Linked DNA regions of Homo sapiens: region 2 is linked to region 1. Evidence: fine-mapped expression QTL. Tissue or cell type: nucleus accumbens. Region 1 holds a variant in brackets; the other region holds the start of a gene. All regions are shown on one strand. Distances are from middle to middle.

What was found. PIP is the estimated chance that this variant, and not a neighbour inherited with it, causes the effect.
Region 2: it holds the start of FEZ2, and the variant in region 1 is fine-mapped to the expression of FEZ2 in nucleus accumbens (GTEx, PIP 0.93). The same link has a PIP of 0.9 or more in sun-exposed skin.

The regions. Positions count from the first base shown.
Region 1 is chr2:36,550,154-36,552,921 of GRCh38, reverse strand. It overlaps CRIM1 (cysteine rich transmembrane BMP regulator 1), which reads right to left. Exons shown (of 17, transcript NM_016441.3): 17 at 1,787-2,768. It overlaps FEZ2 (fasciculation and elongation protein zeta 2), which reads left to right. Exons shown (of 8, transcript NM_005102.3): 8 at 1-664. Among named protein-coding and RNA genes, the nearest start is that of FEZ2, 47 kb to the left of the region's middle. The variant T/G (reference allele first, on the strand shown) is at 1,178.
Region 2 is chr2:36,596,682-36,599,449 of GRCh38, reverse strand. FEZ2 (fasciculation and elongation protein zeta 2) reads left to right here and starts at 1,282. Exons shown (of 8, transcript NM_005102.3): 1 at 1,282-1,573. The coding sequence starts at 1,308. RefSeq lists enhancers at 287-1,213, 1,214-2,141 and silencers at 1,214-1,433, 1,474-1,833.

The DNA.
Region 1 (2,768 bases):
AGATTAAGAGAGAGTAATATTAATTGTGCATGTGCAGTTGTATTTCTCATTAACTGACAGTATGCCCATTTGTTTTTATGGCTTTCTTATCTAAACTGCACTGATGAACTAGATTAAAGCCTTGGGAGATTTATACTATAAATTCAGTGATGGCAAGAACCAACACTGTTTTTTTGTGAGAATTGTCAGTGTAACTATTACCTACCAGTATTGTTCAGAGAGATTGAAACAGAATAAACGGGCTGTTCTTGAAGAAGCAAAACCAGAATATGCATTACTTTGGTTTAATACTTAGTGCTAACATTGAAACTGTTGGTGGTGATGGATTTTGTAGCTTGCTGCTTGTTTCACCACTGGTCAAATTTTAACCATTAAATTGCCATTCACTTTTAGAATCTTGTATTTAAGTTTTGATTTTCAAATGTTCTGCTTCATGTGTCTGTGAAGAATTGTACTTTAAGTGTGTGTCCTCTGAGGTGCTTGAGAAAGTGTACACTGCAGAACTGCCCATTCTCATTACTGTGTCCTATTTTATTCATGCCTGTGTGTTTTTCTTAAGTATGAATTCTAGATACAGCTACTTATGGATTCATCAATATCATGAGCACTTTTGCTGGTTCCAGTCAAATCAATGGCATTTAATAAATTTTTTAAGAAGTAAAAATACATGTTTGAGAGCCTTATATTTGGGAGTTTTGTGTTGTATTTTTTTTTTCCTTACAGTGCTAGATTCTTTCCCTTAATTCCACACAGAACCCATCGCTACAATATGTGAGCAGATGAAACCCTGATTAGTCCCAGAATGCTACGAAGGGGAAGAGGAGGACGTTTATTAGAGTATGCTGAGCTGCTGTGGAATGACAGAAGTAAGTCCTGCTCTTTTTCTGGGGCTGTGAGACATTTCAAAAACAGCCATGCAGACCCCTCCCATAGACGACATGAATGAATTAAGAGTCTATATAGGACCTGCTACAGGCGGCTTTCACAATTCCACTTAAACACCTGTGAGCAAAACAAACAGGGCTAACATATTCCTCACTCCACTCAGCAACTGAGACACCATGACTGCAAAGGCAGGGGCGCGGTTTGAAGTTTAATGCCTGCTTGGCATTTCAGCCATCATCTCTAGGGGTATGAGAAACTCGAGATGGTTTCCTTGTTTTATTAATGTTCTTAT[T/G]TGGAACTTACTGGCCCTTTCCCCAGATACATGTACTTACACAGTAATATTAATAATTTAAATTAATTTGAATTTGTAAAAATGACGCCTTGTACTGAAGAAATGTAGCTTTAAAGGGTATATGATATAGTAGAAAGTCCTTAGGGGGATATATTTTTTTAAAGGAGATTCAACATTGGTCTGTTTATAGCTCATTCTTAAATTGATGCTTCTAAAATGTATGAAAATATACCTATTTATTTTTTCCTGTCAGCTCAAAAAGTCTCTTTGCAGTTAGGCTTCCCCTGATCGTGCTCGGTAAAGTCTTTCTTCTTCAGCATCGAACCACTGTAGGATTTCCCACCACAGTCCTCCTGTGCGTAGCAAGTTAATTTTGATACCAGCTATGAGCACGTTTCTGACAGCAGGTAGGTTTCTTGTCTCCCTAAAAACAGCATCGCTATTCTCTGTACTCTGGGAGACACTTTTCTTTTTGCAAGGATACCTTGGGAAAGACCCGCCTAATGACAAAAGCACGGGACTTCTTGTTACACCAGGGGTTCATTGGACTGATAACCTTAAAAGTCTTTCGGATCTCAGAGATGGAATCTTTTTGCAAGTTACACTGTGTGATTTCAACTCAAAATGTTTATTTCCTGCCAAGAATCAAGTTGCAGATAATTCTCTTACAGCTTTTTTGAAGAAAACAAAAACAAACTGTAGAACTATGATGCACTCCAAGTGCCATATATCTATTTTATTCTTCAGGAAATTATATTTTTCTTTTACAAGAGCACAACAGGAACCAAAGTAAAAGAGTAATAGATACAGCACTCAGGATAAATCATATCTTTAAAATAATAATAAAAAAATTTACACCTTGTCCTATATCCTGTTAGTATTTTCATAATATGGCCATGATTGAAAAAACAAAAAGCAAGCATCTACAATTTTTTTTGATAAAGACTTTTTATGCCAGGAATGGATTAATTACCAACAAAATTTATACTAATCAGGCTGATGTCAATCTATTTTTGTAATGTATCATTAACAAATTTATTTTGGAAAAGATAAAAATATTGCCCCTTGATAATAAATCTTTTTTTCCTTTGATGCAAACAGCTAGAACACCTTTTTCTTTTTCTTTTTGATATTCTAAGACAAAAAAATGGTTAATCTTCAGATTAATAAATTAGGTCATTATAATAATAAATTAATTTTTTTTAAAGTTCAGCAACCTCTGTCCAAGTATTTACAACAATACTTGAAAGTTCCTTTACAAAACAGAACACATTTTCTTTTCACGTTAAGCATACTGGGTATCTGTGTCTTTCACAACAAGCATTTTTAAAAGAAAACTCAATGCACAAATGGGTTAATTAGTATAAAAGTGCTAAGGGCTGTTTGAAAAGTTACCACTATAGTATACAGTCAGTTATATTTGAGGCATACTACAACAAACTTCCAGCTTATTGTGGACAATATTCCAGTAGTTGTTTCAAACCATTGTTTGAAAAAAAAAAAAAAAAAATCCAGGAGCTGATTAGTGATGCAGATAAGAACTGCCATCAATGTCTCTGGCCAGTGAGCAAATTGAAAACCAACTGAAAGC
Region 2 (2,768 bases), 47 kb before region 1:
GGCGGGCTGAGTCCGAAAAGAGAGTCAGCGAAGGGAGATGGATTATCATTAGTTCTTACAGGTTTTGGGTCAGGCGGTGAAGTTAAGAGCAATGTTTTGCGGGCAGGGGTGGATCTCACAAAGTACATTCTCAAGGGTGGGGAGAATTACAAAGAAACTTCTTAAGGGTGGGGGAGATTACAAAGTACATTGATCAGTTAGGGTGGGGCAGGAACAAATCACAATGGTGGAATGTCATCCTTAAGGCTATTTTTACTTCTTTTGTGGATCTTCAGTTACTTCAGGCCATCTGGGTGTATATGTGCAAGTCACGGGATGCGATGGCTTGGCTTGGGCTCAGAGGCCTGACAGCTAGATTTTGTATTTTTAGTAGAGACGGGGTTTTACCATGTTGGCCAGGTTGGTCTTGAACTCCTGACCTCAAGCGATCCGTCCACCTGGGCCTGCCAAAGTGCTGGGATTATAGATGTGAGCCACCTCGCCTGGCCTACTCCAATTTTTTTGTATTGTAGTAAAATAAACATAAAATTACTATCTTAACCATCTGTAAGTGTATAGATCAGTGGCATTCAGCACATTAACACTGTCGTGGAACCATCACCACCATCCATCTCCATAACTCTTTTCATCTTGCAAAACTGAACCGCCCAATCACACTTAGTTTTTATGAGGTCTAAACAATTTCTTGTTACTCTTATCACTCCGACATTGTAAGCCCTGTGTATGGGGCACCCATGTATTAGTTATAACATACACATAGGGTATCTACTATTAGGCATTGCTCTAAGTGCTTTGCAAATGTTAACTGGCATAATTATCTTTGTATGTTCTGCAGGATCTAGCCAGTGCTTTGCACGTGAGAGGTAAAATATTTGAGGAATGAACTTCGGTACCACCTAAACATTTCCCATTGACTCTGGCTGTTATTCTGGTTGGCAAGTTAGGAAAGGAGCAGGTTACCTTGGGGAAAACGACTTTCGGGGCGTAATCTGATATTAGGTCGTAAGTTTAAAGAAGTCCTTTATTTTAGCCACATTTAGGCCAAGTTGCTAATAAGGGAAGCTAACAGGGAAGTTATTCCTAAATGATAGAGAATATAGGAAGTGACTCAAGGCAGTTAAGGTCTTGGCTTTCTAGTAGCACCGCGTTCAACTCCAGGAAGACTCAGGCCACCGGAGACCCAGGGTTGGGACAGCCTGGGATCTGTCAGCACGGTAGCGGGCGGGGGCGGGGCTTCGGGCCGGGGCGGGGCCGGGCTGGGCGGGCTGGGCCGGCCTGGGCGGGGCGCGCGACTGCTCCGGGCGGCGATGGCGGCGGACGGGGACTGGCAGGATTTCTATGAGTTCCAGGAGCCGGCCCGGAGCCTCCTGGACCAGGAGAACTGTAACGCGAGCCCCGAGCCTGGGGCGGAGGCGGGGGCCGAGGCGGGTGGGGGCGCCGACGGTTTCCCGGCCCCGGCCTGCAGCTTGGAGGAGAAGCTGAGCCTGTGCTTCCGCCCCTCGGATCCGGGCGCCGAGCCCCCGAGGACGGCCGTGCGGCCCATCACGGAGCGCAGCCTCCTGCAGGGGGACGAGTGAGTGCGGGGCCCCGGCCGGGAGTGGGCGGGAGCCTCCCCTACCCCTCGCCCGACCGGCAGCCCTACGGCCGCAGCTCCTCCCTGCGCCCTCCTTCCGCCCGGACGCGGGAGTCCCCGCCCTCTCGCCTCCTTCCTCCGGCCGTCGGCCTCGGCTCGCCCAGCAATTTAAATCCCCTGCCCCCCGCCGCCACGAGCCCTGAAAACCTCCGCCTCGGTACCTCCCGCCCTCCTTCCTGCAAACCAAACCCTCGTTTGTATTAGAAGGGAATCGCCCATGCAGAGCCCATAGTTAGAGACGGCACCTCCTGGGGCACCTCCTGGGGCACGTGTGTCGCCATTCATTCACTCAAGTCGCATTTATTAAGCACCTGCTGAGTGCCAGGCGCTGCTTCGCACAGGGAACACCAAAACGACTGGGCACTGTCCCTCCCACTTAGGACACAACGTAGGATGGGAGATAGATTTGTAAACAAATACATGTATGGATGTAATTAGCGCTGCAATGGTTATATGTACCAAATGTGAGAGACTTAAAAGCGTGTGTCTTGGGGAGAGTAAGGAACGACTTTATAAAGAAATGTGCAAACGAGATCTGACTGATGAGTGGGAGTGTGCCTGGCAGGTGGAAAAAAGTCTAACGTTCTAGGTGGAGTATATTGCCTGTGCATAAGTACCAACGTGCGAGGCAGCATTTAGGGCACAGGAATCTGTGGGACCCACCCGGGAGCCCTGGTAGAGTGCGAGCCGCCACAGAGACGAAAACGAAGGGCCCTGCTTACTGATGGTAACGATCGCATGGTCTGGTGGGGAGACCAAGGCATACACAAGTAATATTAATAATTACAGAATCACCTAAGAGCAATGATAGGAGGTTCACGGGGTTTTATCACAGCTGGGAGAGGTGAGGCGCAGAGTTCCTGAGGGCACTTTTTAAACCACCTGAGCCGCAATTATAATTTGGTTAAGTAAGAGTTGTAATTAGGTACCATGGTTTTACCCCCAAAAGATGGTAAATAGGAATGGTGAGAGTAAAGGGACTTGAGCATGTTGTGTATATAGGGGGAGAGGAGCCTCCGGAGAGGCTGAAGGTAAAATGAGTGGAATAAGATTGGGCGCGGTGGCTCACACCTGTGATCCCAGCACTTTGAGAGGCTGTGGTGGGAGGATGGCTTGCTTCCAGCAGTTCGAGACC